3 linked regions of the Homo sapiens genome follow. The protein of the gene in region 3 interacts with the protein of the main gene of each other region in a biochemical or structural test. Each region holds a gene or a part of one and is shown on either strand. Other genes may lie near its edges. The genes, in order: SCN5A, TTC3 and SMURF2.

What was found.
Region 1: the proteins of SMURF2 (region 3) and SCN5A interact in a surface display test, tested with the Homo sapiens proteins (one large-scale study listed by IntAct).
Region 2: of the proteins of SMURF2 (region 3) and TTC3, one has a biochemical effect on the other in vitro, tested with the Homo sapiens proteins (one study listed by BioGRID).

Annotation. Positions count from the first base shown.
Region 1 is NC_000003.12:38,597,688-38,601,342, reverse strand, and holds part of SCN5A (sodium channel protein type 5 subunit alpha), read left to right. Parts: intron 1-2,292; coding exon 2,293-2,425; intron 2,426-3,375; coding exon 3,376-3,614; coding exon of another isoform or gene 3,615-3,655. UniProt on the Homo sapiens protein: Pore-forming subunit of Nav1.5, a voltage-gated sodium (Nav) channel that directly mediates the depolarizing phase of action potentials in excitable membranes.
Region 2 is NC_000021.9:37,195,214-37,198,868, reverse strand, and holds part of TTC3 (E3 ubiquitin-protein ligase TTC3), read right to left. Parts: intron 3,195-3,655; coding exon 2,833-3,194; intron 1,300-2,832; coding exon 1,173-1,299; intron 988-1,172; coding exon 844-987; intron 1-843. UniProt on the Homo sapiens protein: E3 ubiquitin-protein ligase which catalyzes the formation of 'Lys-48'-polyubiquitin chains. Mediates the ubiquitination and subsequent degradation of phosphorylated Akt (AKT1, AKT2 and AKT3) in the nucleus.
Region 3 is NC_000017.11:64,544,545-64,547,462, reverse strand, and holds part of SMURF2 (E3 ubiquitin-protein ligase SMURF2), read left to right. Parts: intron 1-1,124; coding exon 1,125-1,200; intron 1,201-1,515; coding exon 1,516-1,615; 3' UTR 1,616-2,918. UniProt on the Homo sapiens protein: E3 ubiquitin-protein ligase which accepts ubiquitin from an E2 ubiquitin-conjugating enzyme in the form of a thioester and then directly transfers the ubiquitin to targeted substrates.

The sequences.
Region 1 (3,655 bases), on a different chromosome or scaffold from region 3:
CAGGCAAATGATTTTAGGGAGCCAGCCCTAAAGATGCAGAGGAACAGCGTTCAGGCAGAGGGAATAGCAAGTGCAAAGCCCCTGAGGAGGACACATCCAAGGGATGAGAGGGACTAACAGGGCCAGGTGTGGTGAAACATTAAAATGAATTTCATGAGTTAGGATTTGGACTGTGCAGGGCCTTCTAGACCATAGATAAGTTTGGATATACTGTGTGAGTAAGATGGGGAGGAGTAGGGTGGGAGGAGTTGTTGAACAGAGGAGTGACATTATCTGATTTACTTTTTAAAGGAATCCCTTTCTACTATGCAGAGAATACAGGGATGAGAAGAAGAAAAGAAGCCAGTTAGGAGGCTGTTGCAGTGGTTTTGGGAAAGAGAAGATGACTGCCTGGACTAGGATGGTGTATTAGTCAGCTATTATAATAATAATGCTGTGTAACAAACTACCCCAGAAGTCAATCTCTAGCAACAAGCCTTTATTCTCATGCTCACTTATCTGCAAGTTAACTACAACATGGCCCATGTAGGTTAGGCTTAGCTGGGAAGCCCTGCTCCAGACGGCATGCTGGCTGGGCTGGGCTCCATGCTGTGGGTTAGGCTCAGGGCTGCTCTGCATCTTTGTTCTGAGGCTTAGGCTGAAAAGGTGACAGCTATCTGGGGAAGCTCTTTTCATGGAGAATTCCTGGAGCACAAGAGCAAGATAAACAGCACTAGCCCAGTTGAGGTTTCTGTTCACAGCATGTCCACTAACATTCTGTTGTCCAAAGCAAGTCATTCATGCCCAGGGCAGGGAAGTTAATTCACCCTCGGTGGGAGGGGAAAGAGAGTGCATATGTGCCAAGTGATAACCAAACTATCATAGATGGCAAAGAAGGAGGGGAGAAGTTGGGAGAATTTAAAACTTGCTTGTGAGTTAAGCTGGCCAAATTCATGGTTGCGTTGGACCTAGGGTAGTACCATTGCACCAGCCACCTCAGCCCTCTCAGGTGCCTCCACTTGAATACTTCCATGACTGGGAGCTCACTACCTCCCTAGGCAACATTTCAGAGCAGTCCTACCAATGGCCGGGATGTCCTTAACTTGAGCCCAGATCTATTTGGTATCCACCCTATGCCCTGCTTCTTCTACCCTGGCTAATCTAGGCCCATCTTCCCTCTGCCCTATGAAGATTAGAGTCTTGCTATTGCATGCTGAACAGCTCAGCACCTGGGCCGTGGTCATGCAGGGCCCTGCTGAAGTGAAGGCTTTATTGGCCCTCCTTGGTTCTGTGGGAGGCTCCAGGTAAGCCTAGAGAATGCCTGCCTGCCACCTCCCTTCACCAGGGCTGTTTCCAGGCCTGGGTTTTTTACTGATAAAAATGGTGCATGCATGGTGAAAACAAACCCCACAGTGCAGAAGTACATGAAGTGAAAAGGGAACTTCTCCCTCTTTTTCCCCTCCCCCACAATCCCATTCCCCAGATATGTCCACTTTAATTATTTGGTATGCATTTTCCAGATCTTTTTCTTGTTTTTTCATCAAACTGTTTGTCTTGGAGATGTCCGCATGGGAGCATCCAAAGAACTGCCTCGTTCTCTTTGTTGTCTATCAGAGCCCAGAGTTGGACTGTGTCTATAATTGATTTGAATATGGTTGCTATTGATTGGTGTTTTGTTCTTATGGTATTAGGAACACTGCTGCAATGAACATCATTTATGTGTATTTTTGATGCACATGTGTAATTATTTATGAAGTTAGATTACTAGACGAGGACTTGAGGGCCAATTTAAAATTTTCTTGGTAAATCCAGCCTAACTGCCTCCACAAAAGACACAGCCCCCCACCAGCCATATGTAAGCATTGTACTTTATCCTGCTATTAGCATTATCTTAGAGCATGTTAGATTTTTTTTTCAGCTTCTTTATGCTCTTGACGCTAGGAAACTTGTGGTCAGTTAAGACTCCCAGATCATTTTTGCATGTACTAATGTGTATGGCAGCATCAGGCTCAGGGAGGACCTGTGATATGTGTAGCTTCCTGACCACACTCAGGAATCACTGCTGATGAGAGGCAGTGAAGAAGAAAGGAGAATGAAGGAGACAGTGATTGGGAGGAGGGGTGGAGGGAGTTCTTAACTGGGAGGGAGTTGGGAACAGAGAAGCCCAGCATCCAGTGTCCCATCAAGACCTTCATCCTATCCCTGTGGCATCCCCAGCCTGAGTCTGGACCGGCCTCCCCAGGTCCAGCAGGACAGGAGCTGGGGGCAGGACCCTTTTCCCCAGGCTGACGCAAATCTCCTGATTGCACTCAGACCACGCCATCGGAGGAGCCAGGCGGGCCCCAGATGCTGACCTCCCAGGCTCCGTGTGTAGATGGCTTCGAGGAGCCAGGAGCACGGCAGCGGGCCCTCAGCGCAGTCAGCGTCCTCACCAGCGCACTGGAAGGTCAGCAACCCCAGGTCATTTAAGCACCCCCCACTTCCGCTGCAGGTACCCTCATCTTTATCCCAGCCTGACCCAGGCATCCCCCATTTGTCTTGGCCTGCTTTAGACATCCCCACACTGTCCCAGCCTTCTCTGTTCTGTGTAGCCTTGCCTGTCCTTCCATGTCTTTTCATCTGTTTCAGCTTGTTCTCTCCTGGGTATCACCATGCCTGTGTTTCTCCCAAATACTCCCACATCTGGCCTGTCCCAGATGCTTGTCAGTCTCATTCCATCATCTCCCAACCATAACCATGTCTATCTAGGACCATCCTGTCCTGAGCATACCCATGCCTGTTCTAGCTATTCCCATATCTACTTCAGACTATTCCAGGCATCCTACATCTTTCCCAGCCATTCCTGCCCTAGGCAACTCCACATCCCTTCCAGTCTGAATGGGGCACCCCCCATCCTGATCTTGTTCCCTCCTATCTCGGATGTATTCTCATCTTTTCCAGCCTGTCCTTGGCATCCCCTCTCCCATTTGTCCTGACACATCCCAGATGTCCACATCTGTCCCTGCCCATTCTGTCCCAGGTGTCCTCGTGTCTGAACTTGCATGTCCCCATTACTGTCTCATCATTTTCAGCCTGTCCTCCCCTGAGTGTCCCCAGGTCTATGTGGGACTGTTGTCTTAAGCAGTTGTACGTTTGTCCTGATAATCTCTCCTGTCCCCATTTTCCCCACCTCCATCTTTGTTTCCTGTCCCTATGGACCTCTTCTCTCATATTTCCAGATTAAGGAGCCAGGACACAGGCCACCCACTCCCTTGGCCTTCCCTGCTCCCACTGTCCCGCTGTCACCTAGCAGCCCTGTCATCTCCCAGAGCAAGTCATAAATCTTTCCTGGAAGGTATTCCAGTTACATATGACTCAGTCAACAGAATCAAACTAACTCATTGGCTGTCCCCTCAGAGTTAGAGGAGTCTCGCCACAAGTGTCCACCATGCTGGAACCGTCTCGCCCAGCGCTACCTGATCTGGGAGTGCTGCCCGCTGTGGATGTCCATCAAGCAGGGAGTGAAGTTGGTGGTCATGGACCCGTTTACTGACCTCACCATCACTATGTGCATCGTACTCAACACACTCTTCATGGCGCTGGAGCACTACAACATGACAAGTGAATTCGAGGAGATGCTGCAGGTCGGAAACCTGGTAAGGGCTGCCTGCAGCTGGCTCTCAAATGGGCATCCTGG
Region 2 (3,655 bases), on a different chromosome or scaffold from region 3:
CCACAATAAAAAAAAAAATGGAAAACAACCAAAACATTCAGCCCCTCAGAGAACATACAAAGTGTGACTAGCGTATTCAGTTTTGACTAATTCACATATCCATGCATTCAAGAGTTTAGAAAAATATATACCAAAGTGGTAATACTGATTACAGGGCGGGTTTTTAAATGCCCTTTTTATTTGTATTTTCTATTGTATGTAATACTTTGTAATTTGAAAATTAATACTTTTAATTTTAACAAACTATGGTTATCAAATTAGGTCCCAGTTTGAACACATATTTTTCTTTCTCATACAATCTGGTGAAGTTTCAGTAAGTCAGCTTTTATATCTTCGTTACTACAAACATCCATCATGAAGCAAAAACAGAACCCTCTTCTCCAGGCAATCACGGTCTATCTTGGGGTGGGTGTGGCCACACGACACATTGACACATCTGTGTAATTCCAAAGCCATGGTTACACAGAAGAAAATTATTCAAAAATGATTTCCCCAACTGTTCAAAATACCACACTGGATGTACAAAGTTCATGTACTTGACCATCTGCAGCAAAACAAGGGCAAGAGAGAGAAGGCTCAGATCCCCCACGATGGTCAGAGCCCTTGTCACTCATGTGCAGGGGCTTCTCTCCATGCTGGGCCCAAACGTATCACAGCAGACACCATGACCTCGGCCATTCACTGATTGCTCTAACTGGACACATTCAAGTACATTGAAATTCAGTTTCTAATGTTGGGATCAAATAAATTAGGTCTAGAAATGAATGGGGCTAAATCATGGATTAAAAATTTTGTTTGCTTCTTGTTTTTCATTAAAAAACAAAACTATACAGTTATACATACAATCCTCACAGGGACATCTTCTGCTTTCTGCCCCTTGGTTTTGGGTGATGGTGCAACAACCACCGAGGGTGAGCCCTGGGAGGACCTGGTCACGGGGGTGGCAGAGCTGGGCTCATAAGTCCTCTTGTCCTTTCCTGGGTTTGGCTGCGAAAATAACAGGGGTGGCGGGGAGGGGACAAGAGGGAAGCAACCAGTTATCCAACAACTTGACCATCTTCTGTCTTTAGTACATTGCTCTCTAGGTTTTGGTTTGAAGCTTTTTTTTTTTTTTAACAATTCTCATATTTTATAAATAAATAAGGATAAACTGGAACATCTAGATAAAATACCTTTTTCTTTTTCTGTTCATCTAGAATGTGTTCTGTCACTCTTTGGACAATTTCATCAATACTCAATCCTGAGAGTGAGTTCTTGTTTTTGCTTCGCACTTTTTTAATAAAACCAGCAAGCTCAGTGCTGAAAGGGAGAGTGAGTGATGAATGACAACAGAAAGTTCTCTACTGCTAAGAAATATTACATGCCAATATTAATCCAACAGCCCAACCCAAAGAAACAAAGACAAATGCACATAAAATTAATCTGAAGACCACTGATAACAACAATAACTATCTAAAAAGCATAACTTTTTTTTTTTTTTTGAGACAGTGTCTCACTCTGTTGCCCAGGCTGGAGGGCAGTGGCGCGATCCCTGCTCACTGCAACCTCTGCCTCTCAGGTTCAAGCGAGTTTTGCCATTTTTTTTTAAGAAGAGATGGGGTTTCACCATGTTGGTCAGGCTGGTCCCGAACTCCTGACCTCAGGTGATCCACCTGCCTCGGCCTGGCGTGAGCCACCATGCCTGCTGGCTAATCATATTTTAACTGCCCCATTGTTTACAAATTTCAATTTTGAAGCCTGTAATTAACACTGTCTCAGAAACTGAAATAATAGGGCACATGCCAAAGGTCATTCCTGAGCATAGAGTCCTTTGATCCGAGCTGCACTTCAGAGACACCGCCTCTACCTCATCATCTTTCACAGCTGAGACAAGAGGCAACTCTGTCCCCCTCGTAACAACCTGAACAGCGGAAACCAGAGGTGGAGGCAGAAACGCTACTGAAGAGCCTGCCATCATCCCAACTCTATTTACAGCTCTTGCTCACTCAGGTAAGGGCAGCTTTTTCCCACATTCACAAGGACCCCTTGTTAACATGTCCACATGCCCCATTCACTATGGAATTCCATCCAGTCTTCAACCTCACACTCTAACAAATCAGAGGTCTTATATAACAAGGTTTAAGTTGCTGCTGCCTTCTTTGCTATATATAATTTTGTCCCCCCAAATGATGCAAAATTATTGTTTTGCGTTCATTTATTGATACTATAACACTAGTTTTAGACAGTGCTATTGGTCTCATCAAAATCTTAGCAAATTGTCATGGGTTCTGATGAATATTACCCAGTGCTCAATGTTTTCAATTTACATATGCACATTAAAAAATTTATTTGAGGCTGGGTGTGGCGTCTCATGCCTGTAACCCCAGCACTTTGGGAGGCCAAGGCGGGTGAATCACTTGAGGTCAGAAGTTCGAGACCAGCCTGGCCAACATGGTGAAACCCCACCTGTACTAAAAATACAAAAATTAGCCAGGCTTAGTCATGCATGCCTATAATCCCAGCTTCTCAGGAGGCTGAGGCAGGAGAATCGCTTGAACTCGGGAGGGAGAGGTTGCAGGGAGCCGAGACTGTGCCACAGCACTCCAGCCTAGGCAACAGAGTGAGACTCTGTCTCAAAAAAAAAAAAAAAAAGAAAGAAAAAACCCACCAATTTATTTGAAAATACTTATCTCTATATTTACAAAAAGAAAGAAATGTAGCAACTGTCTTTCTGAGCAAAACAATTATGCAACCCTTTTCATGTTAACACCTAACTAGCCATGATTTTATCTAATCAGGAAACCTCAGTTCGATAAAGTATTAAACACAGTCACAGACATTTTCTGTTCATACCTGTTGTAACATGGGAATACCACTGACAGGTGCTCAATAATACTATTGAACGGCTTTTTTGGAGACTGGCTTGAACGCGCAGCACGTCCTGGAGGAACAGGCTGCTTCCGATCAGCCACAGGGCTTCGTTCTGACAGAGCTGCCTGGCCAGCCCGTTTTGGCCCTGTCAGCTGAGTGGCTTCAGGCTGACCAGGGGGTGGCCCTGGCAACAGCGCAGAAGGAGCCTCCCCTGGGGAATCACCAGCAGAGAACACACTAGGATCCCTGTGAAGTGCTGCGTGGTTTCCAGTCACGTCGCTTGCAGAAGTCACAAGCCCTTGGCCATCGTCGCCTGAAGACTCAGGGAGTAACTCGGGATGAACCTGTGAGGAACACACCACACCATGGATCACTTAGGGCTTCCCTTGAAGGATGAAACGCCCAAGGACAAAGGCCGATGAATAAATACAGTAACGCAGCGCAGAGGCTCCGTGCACAGGAAACCTGAATACCATGAATTAAATATTTTCGTTTTAAAAGAATTCTTGACAATAACTTGTTAGTTATTAGAACAAGAGTAGGAGGGCTCAGACTTCTAAATAATTATCTCTATAAGTCACTATTTTCTCTGTAAGATGAGACCATTTTGCCTGCCTACTGGCCCTCCTTCAGCCTCTACCTGGTTACACTTTTCCCCTTCTGAGCTAAACCATGTAGCTGACAGATGGAACATCATGGCCACCACACTCCCCAGAGCTGTCTCCATCCCAGGGGGCCGCCTCCTCTTCCCTGCCAGCTCTCCTGGCAGCTCTCAGGCCTCCGTCCACGCCTGCAGTGCTGACAC
Region 3 (2,918 bases):
TACCTTCTTCTCCCTCCTTTCTTTTGTTCCCTTCCCAAGAGCCTTTTCTGCGGGCTTCTCTGATTGTAGTGAGTGCCGCATGCTAGAGACCGTACGTGGTGATGCTCTGCCTTTGTTTTCTGGTCACCTTACTTTTAATTCTGTTGCACATTCCTGTAGGGAAGTCGTTCACTTCCATGTTCACATCTTGACCTGGTGAAACGTTTACCTGCCTGGGATGCCTCTCCCCTCTACTTTTCGTTCTTTCTCTTATTAGACAGAAGCAGCATGGGTCATGGAAACCATCTGTTCGGTCAGAGCATTTTAATTACTGCATGGCATCAGACCATTTGTTTACAACCATATTCCTTTTTTAAGAATGGTTTTCTGTGGAATAAGCTGGTTAATTTTGGGAGGAGCTGGTAATATTGCTAATGATTGTGGTGCTTCACTGGGTGGCAGTTGCTTCCTTTACCTCTTAAGCACTTCATTTTCAAAGCTGCTGGTGATGAATAAGGACACACAAAGCGACACTGGTACATAATTCGACAGTGCTGCCCACAGCGCATGCGCTGAAATCCCTGGGGGGAGAGCGTGCTTTCAGCTGTGCTGCCCTTCTCTGTAAGGAGAGCTCCTCATCCTCACACTTCCCAGATGCATAAAGTGAAGTTGTATTTCTGCTACATGTATTTATATGGGGTGCCTGTGCGAACTGAAATGGATTCTATAGACGGCTCTTTTGCTGTCAGCCCAGTTTGAGTCATGAAATCTAAATTTGCATCAGGTCGTCATCTTTTTGAATGTGTGCCTATGTATTTTACCTTGGATTTGCCTGATTACTTTTCTTCTCATGCTTTTGGGATATTGACTTTCTATAAAAGATAGAAATTGAGAAAGGGATTTCAATCTTGAGTTTTTTCTCAAATGGAAATGTGAACCTATTACGGAATCTAAGCCTTATCCAAGGTTAATTCTGGCTCTTAAAACCCAGATGCTTTTCCTGCTGCCCTTTGGTAGTATGTGTGGATTCATTAGCATTCCCCTATCCCCAGATCCTGTGGTTAACTTACCAGTTTTATTCTTAAGATTTTGGAGACTAATGCACGCACCTGCAGTGATTTCATCCACATTTCCTTCATTTGCAGGTGCTGCAGGCCCGAGACTCTTTACCATACACCAGATTGATGCCTGCACTAACAACCTGCCGAAAGCCCACACTTGGTAAGGTATTTTTGTAGCTGTATTCCCCATTCCATGTACATAAGTGTTAGTTCCAAACAGATTTGACTTTTTATTTATTGTACTTACTAGTGTTAAATGGGCCTTTAAAGGGAATGATAAGCAACTTAAGTGATTTAAAAGTTAAGATTATTCGGAAATTGGTAGGAAAACCCAAAAGTGGTCATCTCTGTTTTAGAGAAATACCTTTTAGTTTTCTGTGTGACACAGAGTGATGTGGCTATACTGGTATACACTTGCTAGGCCAGTTTACTTATTTTGAATGAACTGTATAAAATTTGATTTGCTTATTCACAGCTTCAATCGAATAGACATTCCACCCTATGAAAGCTATGAAAAGCTATATGAAAAGCTGCTAACAGCCATTGAAGAAACATGTGGATTTGCTGTGGAATGACAAGCTTCAAGGATTTACCCAGGACTCTATTTATACAACCCTGACTGACAGCCTCCTTTCAGCAGAGTTTCAAAGAATATGCTGAAATACAGGAAAACACTCCCCCCCCCCCCCTTTTTTTTTTTTTTTTTACATTTTAGGACACTGTGAGGGGAAAGGACAATTTTGAAATTCCTTTTCAAGGAAAAAAAAGGTCTTTATGCTTTGCCATGAGGCCACATTCAGCTGCTATTTAAACTTAATATCTTGAACCTAAAGAATGCTGACTTTTCCTACATTTCCAGAGTTAGGCAGTATTCTACACTTAAAGACTACTACTATTTTTATAAAAGGTAATCTATTCAAATTTCTTCACAGATTTCAAGTCTCTCAAACATCAAGACAACTTCAGCAGTCGGTACAAGTCACATTTCATTTTGATTGAATACATGATCTTGAACAGCTCCTGTACTTGCTCTTTGTAAAAAAAAATAAAATTATTTTGAATTATTCTACCTTTGTAAACAATTGGCTAAAAGAATCATCTTTAAGAAATTAAGCCATTTACATGTTTGTGTTTTTCTATAGCAGAGCATTATATTTTGCATTATATGTTTCAACCTAGTCTAAGTGGGTCTTTTTTACATTTTTCAAGAACGGATTTCCTGGAATACAGCGATATAATTTTGGTTGTCAAATTCCTAATGCAACCATTTAGTCTAAACTTAGTCATTTATTTGTGACAATAAGATGTGTTCAGGGGCTCCCTGTTTTTAAGAGACTCTTTTAAAAAAAAAAAAACCTAATGTTTTTATCTTGAGTCAATATGATTAGGTATTTTGGATTTACTTTTAATCTTAAAATACTGCATTTTTATAGCTTCTCAGAGCATGTGGATGGGATGGGATTTTCGTTATTTTGCTGGGTCAGCTTATCTTTAATATATGGACTATTCCTATAAACCAAAGTCTCTGACAAGTGCACCTAATTTATATTGTATTTTAACTACAGTGTAAGTTTCCATTAACAAAACCATCCTAAAGCGTTAACTGCTCATAATTTTAATCAGCTACAGTTATGAAAAAGGAAGAATTTTGCTCTAAAGATTATTAATAAGCTTAGAAAATCCTGCTTTTACCTAACAGAATGAAGTGGGGTTGAGGGGCGGTAGTATGAACAGTGATTCTAACTCTATGGCGTAAATTACTTTGAAGAGTTCATTTTGGAAGTAAGGGAATCCCGCTTCCCTTGGTGTTGAAGATCTGCATCTGATTTTGAAACGTCCAGATTTAGCTTTCAAGGTGCGTGCATGTTGAATGATCCA